Linked DNA regions of Homo sapiens: region 2 is linked to region 1. Evidence: fine-mapped expression QTL. A gene starts in region 1. The other region holds a variant in brackets. All regions are shown on one strand. Distances are between the middles of the regions. Region 1 holds the start of NDST1 (N-deacetylase and N-sulfotransferase 1). Region 2 overlaps NDST1 (N-deacetylase and N-sulfotransferase 1).

What was found. PIP is the estimated chance that this variant, and not a neighbour inherited with it, causes the effect. A credible set is the group of variants that fine-mapping cannot tell apart.
Region 2: its variant is the best candidate, but not a certain one, in a credible set for the expression of NDST1 in visceral fat (GTEx, PIP 0.55).

The regions. Positions count from the first base shown.
Region 1 is chr5:150,505,711-150,510,925 of GRCh38, forward strand. NDST1 (N-deacetylase and N-sulfotransferase 1) reads left to right here and starts at 2,421. Exons shown (of 15, transcript NM_001543.5): 1 at 2,421-2,516. RefSeq lists an enhancer at 4,405-4,978.
Region 2 is chr5:150,551,837-150,557,012 of GRCh38, forward strand. NDST1 (N-deacetylase and N-sulfotransferase 1) reads left to right here. Exons shown (of 15, transcript NM_001543.5): 14 at 1-19; 15 at 1,377-5,176. The coding sequence ends at 1,496. Among named protein-coding and RNA genes, the nearest start is that of NDST1, 46 kb to the left of the region's middle. The variant G/A (reference allele first, on the strand shown) is at 2,715.

The DNA of each region.
Region 1 (5,215 bases):
CAGCTTAGATTTAGGAGGGTCTATGGAATCATATGGCATGATTCAATTTTTTAAATTAACTCGTTTTTTAAAATTTTATTTTTTTTAGAGATGGGGTCTTGCTGTATCTCCCAGGCTGCAGTGCCATAGTGCAGTTGTAGCTCACTGCGGCCTTGAATGCCCGGGCTTCCAGCAATCCTCCTACCTCAGCCTCCTGAATAGCTGGGACTACAGGCTCGTGTCACCATGCCTGGCTTCATGATTCTGTTTTATGTGACCAAACTGAGGCCGAGAAAGGAGTGGTACTTGCCTGAGGTCACAGGCAGGTTGTGTAAGAAGGCCGGGCCTAGGATGAGGCAAGTGAGGCATCTAAGTGCAGCGTCTCAGGAGGTGCCCGCTGTGTGCTTGCACATTGTGGAGAATAAGAACCTTTGTTTTTGAGAGAGGGTCTAGCTGTGTCGCACAGGTTGGAGTGCAGTGGTGCAATCTGGGCTTACTGTAGCCTCAACCTCCTGGGCTCAGGTGATCCTCGCACCTCAGCCCTCCCATATAACTGACTATAGGCACACGCCACTACGCTGTCTAATTTTTGTAATTTTTTTTTGTAGAGAAGGGGTTTTGCCATGTTGCCCAGGCTGGTGTTGAACTCCTGGTCTCAAACTCCTGGGTCAACCTGCCTTGAGCTCCCAAAGTGTTGGGATGACAGGCGTGAGCCACTGCACCTGGCAGTGAGCACCTTCTAAAAGGCTCCTCGCGGGCCTCACCTGAGCCTAGTCCTGGGTGAGTTCCTGATCTAGGACTGGAACCCTGGTCTCCTGGCCCCATGAACTGTTCTGGACCCCTGCGAGGTACTTTTTAGAGTCTCGCTGAGGCCTCCTATTCCTCTTTAAAAGGAGCCTCTGTGAAGTAGGTCACCCAGTGCTTTTTGCTCCACGTTTCTGTTCTCTAGCTGTTGTCTGTGTCCTAGAGAAAGCCGGGCCCACTTGCCCCCACCTCTCCCCACCTTCTGCCCCCTCCCCCTGCCAGCTGCGCCTCCATGTAAGTACTTTGAGTCCCTTAACACCCCAAGGCGTGTTGGTGGCCAGCTTTTGTCGTGATGACAAGCCCCAGCAAGTCTACAGGGACTGGCTGCTTTCATGTGGGCCCTCGGTGAAGCCTCCTTGGTCTCAGCAGGCCCTGTGTTGTACCCACCAGGCCTCTAGGAGATTAGGGGGCTTCTGTGGCTCCAGATGGCTCAAAGCTTTTCCCTTCCTCTGTGTTATCCCTAGCCCACCTGGCTTCCGTCCTCACTGGCCACGGGGCTTGGGGGATTTTCAGTCTCTCCAAGGCTCTGGCATCTTCCAGAGTGGGCTAGTCTTGGAGTGTCCATCTGAGCCATTCTTTCTGTCACCACTGCTGGGCCTGCCTGCTGGGCCTTAGGTGACTTCTTGAGAGGTGGCCAAAGCTGCTAATCCCTGGAAGGGGCTCCTAGGATTTCCCTGTGGCTGGCAGGACCCTTGGCCACCCACGTGGTGTGACATGAGGAGCCTGGAAAGCCAGCCCAACCTCCATCCTTAAGCCCCACGTATAAACATACCTTTTTTTTTTTTTTAACTGCAGCTCTCAGAGCCTGCAGTTCTACTGTTGTCAGGTTGCCTTGTGCTCTCCTTGGCATCCTCTAAGAAGGCAAATACCTTTTCAGCTGGGTGCTTTTAAGCATTTGCTGTCAAGAAGCAAGCCCTGGCCAGCCTGGCCCTTTTCCAGTGTTCTGTGTGACCGTGGCCAAGTTGCTTCTCTTCTCTGGGTCTCGTCTTTGTAAGACCCTTTTCAGCTCTAGCACTTTGAGGCTCCAGCATGGATTCTTACACCCTCCACACCTTTGCCGGTCACCTTTCTTCCTTCTCTGCAGGGTGGGGCACAGGGAAGGGCCTGGCAGCTGAGCTGGGTGGGGCCAGGGGCCAAAAGCCAGCATCATAGACACTTTTCCCTCCAGCTGGGCATACCAGTCCTTCCTCTTCTTCTCAGGACAGGTGGGGAAACTGAGGTCTGGAGGGGGAAGGGCCAGGGCTGGAACCAGGACCCAGTTATCCTTATTGCCAGTGAGTGCTCCTCCTGCTGTTGGCTGCTACCTCTCTTGAGAGGGTCAGAAGACCCACTAGCATGAGGGTCAGGGACATGCTTTTTCCTTTCCCGTGGAAGGCTCCTCCAGGCAGGGCTTGGGTGAGGCAGGCGAGGTGCCAGTGGTTCCCTGGGCACGGGGCAGAATCGGAGGAGGACATCCTCTTTCTGAGGTTAAGGAGGTAGGGGCTGGAGGCCTTGACAAGGGAGGTGGCATGAAGGGGCGTGGAGGTTTCTAGGAACGTGGTTGGTGGCGCAGGGTGCTCTAGGGCCACCTCCCTCCCTTGCTTCTGCCTTCCCTTTCTCCTGGGGAGGGGACTGGGCCAACAGTAATGCCATTTTTCCTGGCCCTGGGATTAGGTGCAGCCGTGTTAAGGAGAGGACATTCGAGAGGGCGTGGCGAAGTGAAGAGGAACCTCACGCCACTGCCTGGAGCTCCGGTGGGTCTGGGTCTGGTCATTGTCTCGCTGGCTCCTGTCCACTCTGACCACTGTCCCTGGCCCCCTGCCCTGTCCAGTCCTTCCAGGTCCATCTGAGTGTGTGTGTGTGTGTGTGTGTGTGTGTGTCCCCAGGAGGGATCTGGGGGTACAGGCTGGCACTTGAGCCTGGCACTGGGTCCTGCCTTCATTCCAGATCAGAAGCAGCTCCCGGAACTGCCCCAGGGAGAGGTCTAGGCTGACCTGGCAGATTCCTGATGGAGGAGAAGGAGGAGGAGGCTGAGGGATGGGAAGGAAGGGCTCAGTTTCTCCTGTGGCTTCTCCAGACAGCTAGGCATGTCCACAAATCCACCTGAAGCCAGCAGGTCCAAGAGTTTAAAGATTTATTTCAGGGCCACGGGGGAAGCTGAAATGGTGAGATCCCAGGGCTCTCAGATGTTGTGTTTGTGGCTTTGGTCCTGTCTAGACTGTGAGAGCCATGGCTTGTCAAAGCCAGAGGGGCCCCTAGAGAATTTCCATGTTCTTAACTTGGCTTTTGATGGGGGCCAGTCACAACCACTCTGAATTTGTGTGTCTGGGGAGAGAATCTGCTAATAGCCATCATTAGATTCTCAAAGGGTTCTATAACCCCCAGAAGGTCACAGACTTCTCCTCTAGTCCATACCCCTCACTGCAGTTGCAGAAACTGAGGCTCAGAGAAGGGAAGGGACTTGCCCAGAGACTCACAGGCGGCAATGGAGGCTGTGGCACCCCCTGCCTCTGTCTTCCTGCCAGCATTCTGCCTGACCTTACAAGCTGGGGAAGCTTGGCTCATTCAGGGGACAATGACCTCTCATCCCCTGATGAGAGGAAGGGGATGACTGGGAGGGAAGGACTGGGAGGCTGTTGTGGTTTCCAGGCCCGCATGGATTTTGGCTTCTGCATCCTTGAGATGGAGGCCCCTGAGTCTGCCTGTGCCTTGGAATCTCTCAGGGTGTATCTGAGGCCTGGAGTCGGGCATGCGGGAGGGTGGGGGCTAGTGGTGACCCACATTTCCCAGCTCCTCTGCAGGGGAGGCAGATAGGGGAGAAGCTCAGGGTGTGATAAAATTGTTTTTACTTCACTGGGCATAAATGACAAATAAATGAAGTGAGGGTTGGGAAGTGCTTGGTAGAGCGCCTGGCACATGCCAGGCCGTGAGGCGAGGTGCTCACCATTGTCCTTTGCGGTGCCCTGCTAGCTGAGATCTCCTGCTTCTGACCCTCGCTCCTGCCTCTTCCTTAGCATGAGGCCTCTGCCTGGGGCAGGAGGTGGCCCCCCTTTCTTTATTTTTTTTGAGATGGAGTTTCGCTCAGGCTAGAGTGCAATGGCGCCATCTCGGCTCACTGTAATCTCCGCCTCCCAGGTTCAAGCGATTCTCCTGCCTCAGCCTCTGGAGTTGCTGGGATTACAGGCATGTGCCACACACCTGGCTAATTTTGTATTGTTAGTAGAGATGGGGTTTCACCGTGTTAGCCAGGATGGTCTCGATCTCAGGACCTTGTGATCTACCCGCCTCAGCCTCCCAAAGTGCTGGGATTACAGGCAGGGGCCACTGCCCCGAGCCGCCATCCCCCTTTCTTATATTGGGGTGTCTGATGGGGGCGTGAGGACCCTCTGGCTGAAGTCCTGCCTTGCTGGGTTCCATGGTGCACCTCTCTGCAGTGCAGGCTTTCCCAGGAGGCTGAAGCTCAGCTAGAGAAGCTGGGTCAGCAGCCCTGGGCCTGGTCACCTCCAGGAAGCCTCTCTCCTGGGCTGCAGACCTGGCTTGGGAGTGGTGTGGAAAGTAGGACTGCAGAAGGGTAACGAACAGGGGCTGTGGGGTGGGCTGGGAGGGGCATCCTAGCTCCACCTCTGCCCAGCTGTGTGACTTCGAGCGGTTGCTTACCCTCTCTGAGCCTCCATTTCCTTGTCTGTAAAGTGCTCATAGCAGTGACACCTCTTTCAGGGTGTTAGGATTGAGCGTGATGGAGCAGGTAAGGCTCCTGGCACAGCCCCACATGTTCGCAGGAGCTTAACGTTGGCCGCCAGTAAGGGAGGTTATGATATGTGTTGGGATATGCTGCTTTGTTCCTTTTGAGTGTCTGTGATCTGAGCCTAAGGAAAAAATAGTTCTGGATGGATTTGACTCTGTCATAGGCAGATTTGGGGATAGGGTGGGCAGAGAGCCCCATTTTGGGAAGATTTGTGGCCACTGCATAACATTCTGTGTGATGGACCTGACAGCCTTGGTGTGCGTGAAGAGCCTCAGTGGGACTGTCAGGACTGTCCCGTCCTTGGGACGGGAGGGTGGCAGGTGACCTGCCGTGTTCCCCACACAGCCCCACCCCCAGGCTGTCTGGTATGTTTGCTCGGTAAGCCCTTTTTTTCAGAGCTGGTACAAAGGTAAACTCGCAACTCAGGCCCTGTTGGAAGAAGGACACATTCTCAACAAGTGAGGTCTAAGTTCCTGAGGTTTTCTGTTGGGCCTTCCCTGCCAGGGAACCCAGAACAGATTCACAAGTTGAGAACCAGGGAGTGAACCAGTAGTGCTTAATGCTTTGTTTCCTTGTTGATTGACGGATGATCTGTGAGCTACTTCCAAGAAAGATCACTAGAGGCTGCTTGTGATACTAAAACACATATAAAATGGATGAAAACAAACACAGACAGAAAACTATTGAAAAGGAATGGAGAAAGGGATG
Region 2 (5,176 bases), 46 kb after region 1:
TCCCGAGATGGACTTGGATGTAAGTGGTGGACACACTACCTGTAGCACCTGCATAAGGGTAAGGGGTCCCTGTATGGAGTTGAGGGGGATTCTCTTTCCTTTACCATGCACTCAGCATGTTCATGGCCTTAGCATTTCTTGGACAGTATTTGTAAGAGGAGGAAAATGGGGGCTGGGACATGGTGGGTCAGACCTGATTTCGTCAAACAAGTGTTGGTTACCTTCTACTAAGGGCTGAGTGCTGTGGGGTTTTGAGGATGAGCCAGACATGTTCTCTGCCTTCAAGGAACTCCTGGTCTTGGAGGGGTATGAGTCCCAACACCACTAAGTAGAATACAGGCAGAGAGTGCTGCGCGCAGTCAGAGAGGGCACACAAGTGCTATGGGAATTCAGAACAAGGGGATGTCACTTGAACCTGAGAGGGGTAAAAAAGGCTCCTTAAAGGAGGGATGGGGGTCTCTGGAGTTGCGCCTAGAAGGATGAGATCCATTTTGTAGGATTTGGACATATGGAATGGGAGGGTAGGTAAGAACAGCATGTGTAAAACCATAGGGGGAAAAAAGAAATTTTAAAAATATATAGAAAAAGGGTCACAGACTGGGGGTCTTGTTACTTCCTCCTTTTCCTACTTGCTTCTGTTTTTGTTTTGTTTTGTTTTGTTTTGTTTTTGAGACAGGGTCTCGTTCTGTTGCCTAGGCTGGAGTGCAGTGGCATGATCATGGCTCACAGTAGCCTCGACCCCCTGGGCTCAATCGATCTTCCCGCCTCAGCCTGCCATAGTGCTGGTATTATAGGTGTGAACCACCGTGCCTGGCCCTGGCCCTGCCCGCCTTGGGTTTTGATTATTAATTCTCTCTCCTCTCCCTATCAGAAGAATTTTGACTTAGTGAGCTATATTTTGATGCTCCTGCCAACTGGGAGTTCACTATTGGAGGCTACCATTTAGAAGGAGATTGTGGATAAATAAGAGGTGTATGGGGGGTGGTGCCAGCAGCATGGTGGGTTTTTTGTTTTTTTGTTTTCTTTTGAGACGGAGTTTCGCTTTTGTCACCCAGGCTGGAGTGCAATCGCGTGATCTTGGCTCACTGCAACCTCCGCTTTCCGGGTTCAAAAGATTCTCTTGCCTCAGACTCCCGAGTAGCTGGGATTACTGGCGCCCACCACCTCACCCCGCTAATTTTTGTATTTTTAGTAGGGTTTTCCCATGTTGGCCAGGCTGGTCTTGAACTCCTGACCTCAGGTGATCCACATGCCTCGGCCTCCCAAAGTGCTGGGATTACAGGCATGAGCCACCGTGCCCGGCCGAGCATGGCGATTTTTAGAGGAGGTCACTCTTAAGTCAGTACACAAGGTCTGAGCTTTCCTTCCCGTTACAGTCCCGAGCCTTCCTGAAGGACTATTACCGGGACCACAACATCGAGCTCTCCAAGCTGCTGTATAAGATGGGCCAGACACTTCCCACTTGGCTACGAGAGGACCTCCAGAACACCAGGTAGCCGTGGCCACCACAGCCAGACTGAACGTTTGTGAAAGCTGGGACATCCCACCACACGCTGAGCCAGACCTGCAGAGTGGGAAGCTGGACCAGGGCAGCTGCGCACTTATGAGCAATACTCTGTGGAGGTCTGGTGGGGCTGGGGGAGCACCCAGGCGGATCTGCAAGCACCTCGGAGCACCCACCGCTGGGTCTGCGGCCTAAGGGACCTCCCTCGCCAGCAGAGGTCCATTCCGTTCCCAGCTGCTCCTGGGGAGGCCGCTTCCTGGTAGGAGGGAGTCCACGAGACTCTTTTCTGTCCCTCACTGTGTTCCGCCGACTGTCCCCTCTCGTCACCCATCACTCCCTGCTTCCGCAGGGCGCCCCTCAGTATTCGCTGCCATATGTCCCTGTCCTCCAGGCTGTAGGGGAGGAGAGCCTGGCCGGGGGAGACAGACTGGACATTTCCCTGTTTCGAGCCAGGCTCTTCCAAGGGGCCAGCTGGGTCCCCGGAGTCAGTCCTAGGCTGGATGGGAGGGTGGCCCCCTCAAGAGGACTCCCAGCCTCCACATCTGGTTCCTACCTTCACATCTCACCCTCCCGTTCTGGGGAAGAATTTCTGGTTCCTACAGTATCCACTCCATCCTCAAGGCTTCCCGCAGGGCCTTGGGGCACTGCCTTGCCATCGGGCCCAGTTCTCCGGGCCCCACCTGCACCCCTTTCTTCCCCCTGGGATATGATGTGTGGTGTTTCCTGTGGTAAAAGACTGAGGCAGGCCAGGGGTCTGCCAGTAACATGTTCCCATGTACAGACACGGTCCCCACACCCTCCCAGCCTCAGGCCCAGGCAGACATGGGCGAGCTGGTGAGACTGCCAGCCACGGCTTTGCTTAGCCACCTGTGGCCGAGGGCTCTCAGAGACCCCCTTAACCTCCCAAATACTAAGAAGCTAAAATATTTTAATATTTTGTTTTTTTTTTTCTTGGTGCCAGAGTTTATACCCTGGGTGCTGGGGTCGCACTGTGTTATATATATATATATATATATATAATGTGTATATATATATATTCTATTTTTTTTGGTTGGGTTCGTTTTTAATTCAGTCCTACAAAATGGTGGTAAGCCCCAGTCTCAGGGGTCACCCTGTCTTAGAGCTAGAGATGAGGTGGCAGGGAGGGAGGCTGTGTCCTCAGTGGCCTGGGGCTGAGCAGACCTTAGGAAGGGGCCCTCCCCAGTGCCGT[G/A]GCTGCTCTGGGGCTACCCCAGGTGAACAGAGGTGGTGAGATGCGCAGGGAAGACCAGCTCTCTCCAGGACATCGGGCTGCGTGAAGTCCAGTGACCCTGAGGGGATTTTGGCCAAAGGAAACAGCCAGGGCTGGGCTAGGAGAGCTGGGGTCAAAAGCTGCCCCACCCACTCTCCCTCACATGGTGCTAGGCTGGGAGCTGCCCTGAGAGCTGGGATGCCCACCAAGGCCCACAGAACTGTCTCCAGGCCCTTGTAGACAGTGGGATCTCTGGGCTGATTTCTGGTTGGGGTCTGCTCCTACCCCACCCCATTTAACAATGTGAAGTGACTGAGGCTGGGGTGCCTCTCCCTGGCCCCCTCCAACTGCCAAATTCTGCTTCCCTCTGAACCCCAGGAAATACTTTCTGGAGAGGCTTGTCTTGTTCAGAAGACTCTAGCATCTTGGGGCTGGAAGGTCCTTTGACGGGTATGAAACAGGTCCAGAAAGGGGAGGTGGCCTGCTTGGCCGACGTCATGGAGCCAGCTGGGAGCAGGGCTGAGCGTTGAACCCGAGGCTCCCGGTTCCAAGTCCCATCGTGCTCCTCTTCCAATGCCACACTGCCTCTGAGCCCATCCTTGGGACCCTACTCTGTGCCAGGTTCCTGTCCCTTCCTCCGTCACAGCATGGTCATTCCAGGATATGGGGACAAACCACTCCTTCCCAGCCAGGGTGCCTTTGAGCCTTCTCATTCCGAGGTCTGCGTTTGCATCCCTGTCGTGTTCTCCCTCGAGGGGTCCTTCCCCAGCCTGTGGGGGCCTGGGTCTGTTCTGAGCTGATTCCCTTTTCTCCAGTTCTCTGCTGGGATGAAGAAAGTTGGACACTCAGTGGGACCAGCTGCAGGTGGTTTCACTGTGTACACAGCAGTGTCCCCATCATGCCTCTCAATGGGGCCTGCAAGCCTGGGAACTTGGGCATCGTTGGGCCAGCAGGATGAGCAGCAAAGGGTCTGAGGACAGGGTGGCATGTCTGCTTGTGTGCTCATGAAGACATGCCCACGCCATGGAGCCAGGGGCTTATAGAGAGGGGCAGTGACTTCCAGAGTCCCATCCGTCAGTGAGGGGACTGGGCTGCGGGATGGGTGAGGATCTTACAGCTCCCAGGTTCGGAAATCTACCCTCTAGGCCTGGAGGCCTCTCTCGCAGAGCATGGAAGGCAGGAGAGGTGGGCTGGCCTAGGGCAGGAGCTCCACTTCTCTCTGCCTCTGGCTATGGGAAGGAGCAGGCGGTTGGAAATCCTGTGACAGCAGAGATCTTCTGGATTTTTGCCTGGACCCTTCTGCAAGCCTGGAGACTGGACCTGCCACATGTTCCAAGTCTGTCTGCCTAGGTCACTGCTGCCACTTCTCCTCCCACTAACAGACCTTTCTTGAAGACCCACTAGGTCCAGACACTGCCGGGACTTGCAGGTATGGGGGGTAGAAGGAGAGGCAGATAAGCTGCCTGGGGGGCTGTTAGCTAATGGGTACAAGGACACCCCCTCCCGAGAAGAGAAGCCACAGATGAGTGGGCCAGCGAGGCCAGTCTTCAATGTCCACTAATTCACTCTAAGCATTTGGCCAAAAAAAGGAGAGAGAAATAACTGAAATTGTTCAGGTGGCTCCATCGTCTATTCTGTGGTCCCCTCCATGAGCCTTTGCCCCAGGGTGGGTGCAGGTGCGAGTGTCACCTGCAGCTGCCTCAGTCATTCAGAGTTCCAGAGCCTTCTGTGGTGGAGCATCCTGCTGCTTGGAGGATGAGTCTGAAGTTTAAAAATGGGCCTTTTCTGAGCCCCCCTGATGAGCAGTCAGTGCTTCTGGGCCCAGCTAAGGAAGCCATCTGTTCCCAGCAGAGGAGAGCTGCTGCGCTGACCTGCAGAGGTTGGTGGTCCCAGCACAGAGCTGTGCCCATGGGCTTGTTAGTGGGAAAAGCAAATACAACAATGTTTTACCAAACATTTAATTATGAATGCCCACTCCCCAGCATCTAGATCTAAAATTATTAACATTTTGCCACATTCTTTTTCTCTCTCTGTGTATGTATATGTTTTCTCTGTCCTAATTTAAAAGTACATTGCAAACATCATGAAACTTGATCCCTGAAAGCTTCAGCCTGCATCTCCTAAGAGTTAGGGCATTGTCCTACACATTGGCCCAGTATCACAGCCAAGACGAGAAGTCATTTCCCAGCGATGTCTGCTATCTAATCTGTATTCAAATCCCCCCAATTGTCTCCCAGGTAACTTATGTGTCTGGTTTTGGAATCAGCATCCAGTCACGGTGCACACATTGCATTTTCTAACTATGTTTTTAAAACCTCTTTGAATGCTGAAAGGTCTTCCCTCAGCTCACTTTGAGTTTTTAAATGACATTGTTTTTGAGGCCCTAGGCCTGCTGTCTTTTTGAAGCCCCACATTCTGAATTTGTCAGATTGTTTGCTCATGGT